2 linked regions of the Homo sapiens genome follow. The protein of the gene in region 2 interacts with the protein of the main gene of each other region in a biochemical or structural test. Each region holds a gene or a part of one and is shown on either strand. Other genes may lie near its edges.

Region 1 (4,001 bases), on a different chromosome or scaffold from region 2:
AGCCCTCAAGCCTCCCAGGTCCCCTCCAGGGGCACGAATAAGCCCCAGCAGGGTTCTGAAGGGGTCCCAGGAATCTCCCTGTGGGGATGCGGTGGAGGTGGAGGAGGCTGCGGTGGCCTGGGGACATCTCTGGTCACAGGTGCTGGTGGTATGAGAGATGGGGTAGGCACCAAGCCCCCTGCAGCTGTGGCTAGGCGGGCCTGCAGGAAGGGCCAGGCAGGCTCCTCAGGGACCACAAAGAACAGGGGTTTTCACACCTAGGTGGGCCTGCATCTAGCTAGGACAGTCCCCATCAGGCCATAATGGGCACAGTGGGAGGTAGAACCATGAGTGAGAGAGGGGAGGCTTCCAGAGGCCTGGCCTGGGTCCCTGCTAGATTGAGGGCTCTGGCTATGGTACATGGATATTTCTGCTGTGGAATCAAAGGAGCAGGGGATGCTGAATATCCCCTCTGGCCCTATGCCCTGCTACCTGTCCTTTCACGGAAGGGTGTGTGTGTAGGGGGTGCAGGACCAGGCCTCCCTGGGTGCATCTCTGCCACCTTGCCCTTTGGCTCAGGTGGACCTCCACCAGGTATTCAGAACTCCAGCCCAGAAACGCGCCAAGCCTGTGGGGCCAAGACCTAGGGGGTGGGGGTGGCCTCCCTCCCGCCTGTAGCCAAAGGGTCCTCCCTTGCCCAGCCAGGCCCCGGTGTCGCTTACTGCTCTTATCCACCCCTCCTTCCCAGGCCGGTCCTCAAGGCCCCAGCAAAGGAACCAAGTTCCCGTGAGCCTCCGAAAGGCGAAGGGCAGGCAGCAGCCGCTGGCTTCTGCGCCCACTAGGAGCTTCGGATGCCCGAGTTAGGGCTGCGCCAAGGCGGCCGGAGCAGAGAGGGAGACGGGGACGGGGACAGGCAGGGACAAAGTGCAAGAGGCAAAACTGGCTGAAAAGCAGAAGTGTAGGAGCCGCCAAGGGGCGGGACGAACAGGTCCGTGGGCCGGGCGGAGCCAAGGGTGGGGGCCGGGGTCCCTCCAGGTGGCACTCGCGGCGCTAGTCCCCAGCCTCCTCCCTTCCCCCGGCCCTGATTGGCAGGCGGCCTGCGACCAGCCGCGAACGCCACAGCGCCCCGGGCGCCCAGGAGAACGCGAACGGCCCCCCGCGGGAGCGGGCGAGTAGGAGGGGGCGCCGGGCTATATATATAGCGGCTCGGCCTCGGGCGGGCCTGGCGCTCAGGGAGGCGCGCACTGCTCCTCAGAGTCCCAGCTCCAGCCGCGCGCTTTCCGCCCGGCTCGCCGCTCCATGCAGCCGGGGTAGAGCCCGGCGCCCGGGGGCCCCGTCGCTTGCCTCCCGCACCTCCTCGGTTGCGCACTCCTGCCCGAGGTCGGCCGTGCGCTCCCGCGGGACGCCACAGGCGCAGCTCTGCCCCCCAGCTTCCCGGGCGCACTGACCGCCTGACCGACGCACGGCCCTCGGGCCGGGATGTCGGGGCCCGGGACGGCCGCGGTAGCGCTGCTCCCGGCGGTCCTGCTGGCCTTGCTGGCGCCCTGGGCGGGCCGAGGGGGCGCCGCCGCACCCACTGCACCCAACGGCACGCTGGAGGCCGAGCTGGAGCGCCGCTGGGAGAGCCTGGTGGCGCTCTCGTTGGCGCGCCTGCCGGTGGCAGCGCAGCCCAAGGAGGCGGCCGTCCAGAGCGGCGCCGGCGACTACCTGCTGGGCATCAAGCGGCTGCGGCGGCTCTACTGCAACGTGGGCATCGGCTTCCACCTCCAGGCGCTCCCCGACGGCCGCATCGGCGGCGCGCACGCGGACACCCGCGACAGTGAGTGGCGCGGCCAGGCGCGAAGGGGCGGGGGCGGGGGGCAACGGCCGCCGGGCCAACCCGCTCAGTCACACTCTGAGACCCTCGGCGGGCACCTGCTCGGGGGCCCCGGGAACCGGGGCGGACTCGGGCTCCGGTCCCTTCTGACGCGGGGCTGGGGACGCAGACACTCTTGGCTCCGGCAGCCCAGCGCAACCCCTGAGGTCGGGCGCCGCCTCCCGCCTTCAGAAACTCGGGCTCCGAGCGCCGAATTCCAGCGCCTTCGCCCGTGGGCACAGGGCGCGCGGTGCAGCCACAGGGGGCCCGAGACACGCGCCCCGGCCTGGCCCAGGCTGGGGAACCGCTGGGGTCGGGCTCGCGTCTGAAGGTCCGGGACTGGGTGCGGCCGCCGGGGGTCCCCTACACAGGCAAGCTAATCTGAGCTAGCGCAGGCTTGGGCTCCGGAGGCCCTAGAGGGCAGCTTGGGCTCTGGAGGCCCTTGGGGGCGGCTGCGCCGGGAACCCTGGCCCTTTATCCCCAACCCCACCCCAGAAATAGGGTCCCCGGAGGCGAACAAGCCGAGGGGCGGAGTGGGCCAGGGATCACCTGCCCCGCAATGACCTGCGCCCCGCCCCCAGGCCTGCTGGAGCTCTCGCCCGTGGAGCGGGGCGTGGTGAGCATCTTCGGCGTGGCCAGCCGGTTCTTCGTGGCCATGAGCAGCAAGGGCAAGCTCTATGGCTCGGTGAGTACCGCAGGGGTCTGGCTAGGCACCTAGTTGGGAACAGCGGACATGGCTAGCAGGCTCGTGGCTTCTCCAGCCCCACCTGTGCCTGGGTCTTGGAGGGGTGGCAGGGTCACCAGGTCACGGGACCGGCAGGCCTCCCCAGACAAAGGAAGCAGCCCCAAGGCAGGAACAATGAGGTTCCTGCCATCCCTGAGTGGGCCCCTCCCAGACCGAGGAAAGGGCGCTATTGAGAGCCCTTCCCTTCTCTAGTCCAGAGGGGTAGGTCTCAGTGTTGGAACTGCGGGCTTGAGGCTGGACACGGAGGGAATGAATTCTCTGGCTGCTAGGTGCAGGGCAGGTGGTGAGAGCACCAGCTGTTGTGGGCTGGCCATGTCCCCTTCTCACCCTGTGTGGGTCTTGACACCTTAACTGCTCAGCAGAGACATCTCAGCCCAGGGTGGGGGGTGGGACAGAAGGGGGTTCTGACCCCTGGCTTCAGGCTGGGTACCTTGCCCAAGAGGTGCCCCAGCCCTGACACTGCCCTGCTTTGCTGCAGCCCTTCTTCACCGATGAGTGCACGTTCAAGGAGATTCTCCTTCCCAACAACTACAACGCCTACGAGTCCTACAAGTACCCCGGCATGTTCATCGCCCTGAGCAAGAATGGGAAGACCAAGAAGGGGAACCGAGTGTCGCCCACCATGAAGGTCACCCACTTCCTCCCCAGGCTGTGACCCTCCAGAGGACCCTTGCCTCAGCCTCGGGAAGCCCCTGGGAGGGCAGTGCCGAGGGTCACCTTGGTGCACTTTCTTCGGATGAAGAGTTTAATGCAAGAGTAGGTGTAAGATATTTAAATTAATTATTTAAATGTGTATATATTGCCACCAAATTATTTATAGTTCTGCGGGTGTGTTTTTTAATTTTCTGGGGGGAAAAAAAGACAAAACAAAAAACCAACTCTGACTTTTCTGGTGCAACAGTGGAGAATCTTACCATTGGATTTCTTTAACTTGTCAAAAGTTGTCACGAGTGTGCTGCTATTCTGTGTTTTAAAAAAAGGTGACATTGGATTCCGATGTCATCCCCTGTAGTATGGCGTGGAGCATCTCTGTCTGGAAAGGCCCGCCTGAGGCTTGGGCAGCCAGTTCAGGGAGCTCCCAGGCTTGGCTCTCGGCTAGCATCCTCAGAGGCCCACTCCCTTTGTGCCCTGTTGCTATTAATCGGGACATATCGGTTTACTTCGGGTACAGAAAGTGCGGTGTTGAAGTCCTCGCTGCCACTCTGTTTTTAGATCTGCCAAGACTGACCTTTGAACTTTCCTGTAGTCAATCTTCCTCGATCTACCAGATGGGAGAGACCCTTGGACAACTTTATAAACTCCTGTTTGCCTTTTTTGGATCAGCGACAGCCCCCATCGCTGTGACTATTGGGGAAAAGACGAAGCTCTTTCATAAATTCCATGGAGAGGAATCAATATCCCACTGGAAGGCTAGAAATGGAC
Region 2 (3,500 bases):
CAAACTACACTAAGAAGGCAAGTCAGGGAGGAAGATGGTGTGGTAAAGATGGGGTATGATTAGCAACACCAAGCATTTCAATGCTAGGAAAGCTAAAAAAAGTAGAGCCATCTCTAAATCTCATGGGATACAGCAAAAATCTCTAAATCATATGGGATACAGCAAAAAGATGGAAAAAAATGCAAAACTTAAGGCTAGGACAGGTGTGGTGGCTCACACTTGTAATCCCAGCACTTTGGGAGGCCAAGGCTGCCAGGAGTTGGAGACCAGCCTGAGCAACATGGCGAAACCCCATATCTACGAAATATTTTTAAAAATTATCCAGGCCTGTAGTCCCAGCTACTCAGGAGGTTGGAGGACCCCTTCAGCCCAGGAGTCCGAGGGTACAGTGAGCCACGTTTGACAATGCAGTGAGGGTACAATTGCACCATTGTACTCCAGCCTGGGTGGCAGATCAAGACTCTGTCTCAAAAAACAAAAACAAACAAAAAACCAAAGGCTAAAATCATCTCTCAAGGAAAAAAAAATAGAGACCATAAGCATTTTGCACAGTTGCATAAAACCTACTGGATCAGAATTATCTGTGGAATAGCCTAAAAAACTTCCAAAAAATAATTTCTGAACTGCCTACAGAGATGTCCCCCTGGCGAGAATCGGACCAGTACAGTGGAGAGTAGCACACCAGCTATATTTCCTACCTAGCTTAACAGCCAGGCACCCAAAAATCAATTTCCCATGTTTTCCTTTAATGACTAAAATTCGCTTCCATGGAAATGTAAGGGTAAGCTAGATTAGAGGGAGTTTTTAACAATTACCCTGGCTAAACAAACACCTAAACAACAGTCTGCAAACTGGAAGACTAGTGGATACATTTTATTGAAACTACGAACATTAAACAAAACACTTCCAGTTTAAACACGACCCCAGTTATTTCATAGCCATGTAATTATTTGTTAAGTCTGATATTAAAAACATCTCATATTGGATTGCTGTGGTTTTGTGAATTCTCACCCTCAACTGGGTCAGAAAGACTTGAAAGGAATAAAGTCTTTACTTATGGCTTGATGCGGGGCCATTGGCATAGTAAGTGCTCTGTCTTTTAACTGGTTGAAATAAACAGACAAAACAGAAACACACACATATACCCCAAATTTGAATCAGAGAGAGCCAGTATAAAATGATACAAGTACCAGTTCTCTGGGCTTGCCAGATTTCTGCTCTATAAGTAATATTAAACATGGCTCTTGGTCTATGAATTGTGAAACACTTTATATACTAATAAAGAATGTGTACTTCATTGTGTATTTAACTGCGTAAGCCTGTATTTGGTTTAATTGACCAAGAATAAGTCCTTGTTCCAAAGCTAACTATCAAGTTACAGTCAACTCTTAAATATTAACACTCATATTGAAAAACAAAGATGCAGATAATACGAAACAGAAGATTATTTTAAATCATTCACTCTTGGTATGCGGATATATTCTTTCTTCCTTTCTTTTAACTTGCAATTAAATGCGTATGGTTAATATTATGGCATTTACAATACTTCTAACAAAGGACTTAAACCATACTGGAAAAATCTGACTTAGGGAGGTCTCTGTGTAGATCCTGTCCTCGACGTTTCTGCTACTGAACTCTGGACCAACTCACGTTGGTCCAGGAGAGCATCACCTCTCAGAAGATTGACAAAAAATTGCTACACAAACTACATTTTTTTTCAGGTTGTTACTTTTCAGAGTCACACTCTGTGGAGGGTGGGAAAGTAATTAAGGGTGTAGGGTTGAAAAGCCCTTTCATTTTAGCTCCTACTGGGTTGGTGTAAACAAAGATGCCATTAATGTCAACAATGACTTAATTAACCAGAGTAGGTGACAATGTCAGGAAGAACTTGAAAGTAAGAGTTGCCCCCTCTCAGGGTAATCAAGCTTGACTAGACTTCAAATATTTATAATGTTAATCAACAGAATAGTACTTGGCATTGAGGACTGCCCCCCTTCGAGTCAATAACCATGTTTTCACTCCTCTGCTGGTGCCCTATAACAATGAATGACCAAAAGGAAATTAACAATGAATGACCAACTGGAAAACTCATATTTAATCTGAAATATTAAAAACTAAAATCTTCTAGAGATTATTTTCTTAAGTCAATTGAGTGGGCCCAACCCCACTGCTACTATTTCAGAACGTGTCCAGAAGACAAATGATATATATGATATATGATATGACATATGATATGATACGATATTGCACAAAGCCAAGATGACTAAACATAACCTTTCCCTGAGGGGCCAAAAGAAAAGGACCCTCTAGTGTTAGGGCCCAGGCTTCTTCCTGGAACTTCTCAGTCACATTTTTCTCCTATCCAATAGACATTATCTAAACTGAGCTTCCAAATAAATTAGCAAACCAAAAAGTCTTACAAGATAAGACCTTGGTGCACAGAAGGTCAAGGTGGAACTTACTGCTAACCAAAGCTATAGTAGTTCTAATCATGGAGAACTGATGGACAGGGGCACAGGCACGCACGCACGCACGCGCACTCGCGCACACACACACACACACGCACACTCTCTCTCTCTCTCTCTCTCTTCCAATTCACCAGCACAGAGCCTAAACCTGAGCCCATTTTCAGCTGTTAAAAACTCCTTTCTCATCTATAATTCAATGACCTTCCTAATCACCTCTGACACCAAAGCGAACTCCTGCAACAGAAGAACTGGTCTTAGGGCTCAAATCAGTGGCCAGTATTAGACTAACAGATGAGGGGAAGTGGGGACCCTACAGAAAGCAAACACAGCTTCCTGGAAACACCAAGGGCCTCCTCCATCCAAAAACAACTTTCTTCTCAACTGTCTCCAAAAGCCTAGATGTTTTTTGACATTGTGGCACCTGGCACAGCCAGCCCACGGGACTGGGAAGACCCATGTTCCCAGCTCCCTGGCGACAACGGCGACAAGGCCATGCACCCGGTGCTTACTGGATGCCAGCCCCTGTGCTAATTGCTCTTTATGTCCAGGTCAAATGGAAATCTCCTAACAACCTTTTGGTGGAAGAGTCAGAAGACTTCTGAGGACATTAATATTCAATGACTATTAATGAAGAGACCCTAAAGATCATCTTCTTAAGCCCTCAGACGACAGAAAGGGAAACTGAGGCCTGGGACTTGTATACTTTTCCAAAGCCTCTTCTTTGCCAGGTTTTGCACCTTCCTCTAAGACATCTTTTCTTTTCCATCTCATAATTCTGGATGCAAATGAACTCATAGCTCATGGAAACTATAAACCCATAAAAATGCACAAAAGGACATTAACAAAATATTACCTAAAATTTCCAGAACTTCATCGACCTCCTTCCTGATCCATAAGTGCATCCACAGATCCCAGGTTGAGCAGGCCTGCTTCCAACAATACCCACATTGTTGGATGTAAATTCTTACACAAAGACTCACTCGGGGAACTTCGTCCCTTTCCACGATTTCTTCCCTCTGCCTCACCTGTCCC

What was found. The genes of interacting proteins can lie anywhere in the genome.
Region 1: the proteins of FGFR2 (region 2) and FGF4 interact in a biophysical measurement, tested with the Homo sapiens proteins (one study listed by IntAct).

Annotation. Positions count from the first base shown.
Region 1 is NC_000011.10:69,772,542-69,776,542, reverse strand, and holds the start of FGF4 (fibroblast growth factor 4 precursor), read left to right. Parts: upstream 1-1,201; 5' UTR 1,202-1,458; coding exon 1,459-1,798; intron 1,799-2,415; coding exon 2,416-2,519; intron 2,520-3,057; coding exon 3,058-3,234; 3' UTR 3,235-4,001. UniProt on the Homo sapiens protein: Plays an important role in the regulation of embryonic development, cell proliferation, and cell differentiation. Required for normal limb and cardiac valve development during embryogenesis.
Region 2 is NC_000010.11:121,588,445-121,591,944, forward strand, and holds part of FGFR2 (fibroblast growth factor receptor 2 isoform 1 precursor), read right to left. Parts: intron 1-3,500. UniProt on the Homo sapiens protein: Tyrosine-protein kinase that acts as a cell-surface receptor for fibroblast growth factors and plays an essential role in the regulation of cell proliferation, differentiation, migration and apoptosis, and in the regulation of embryonic development.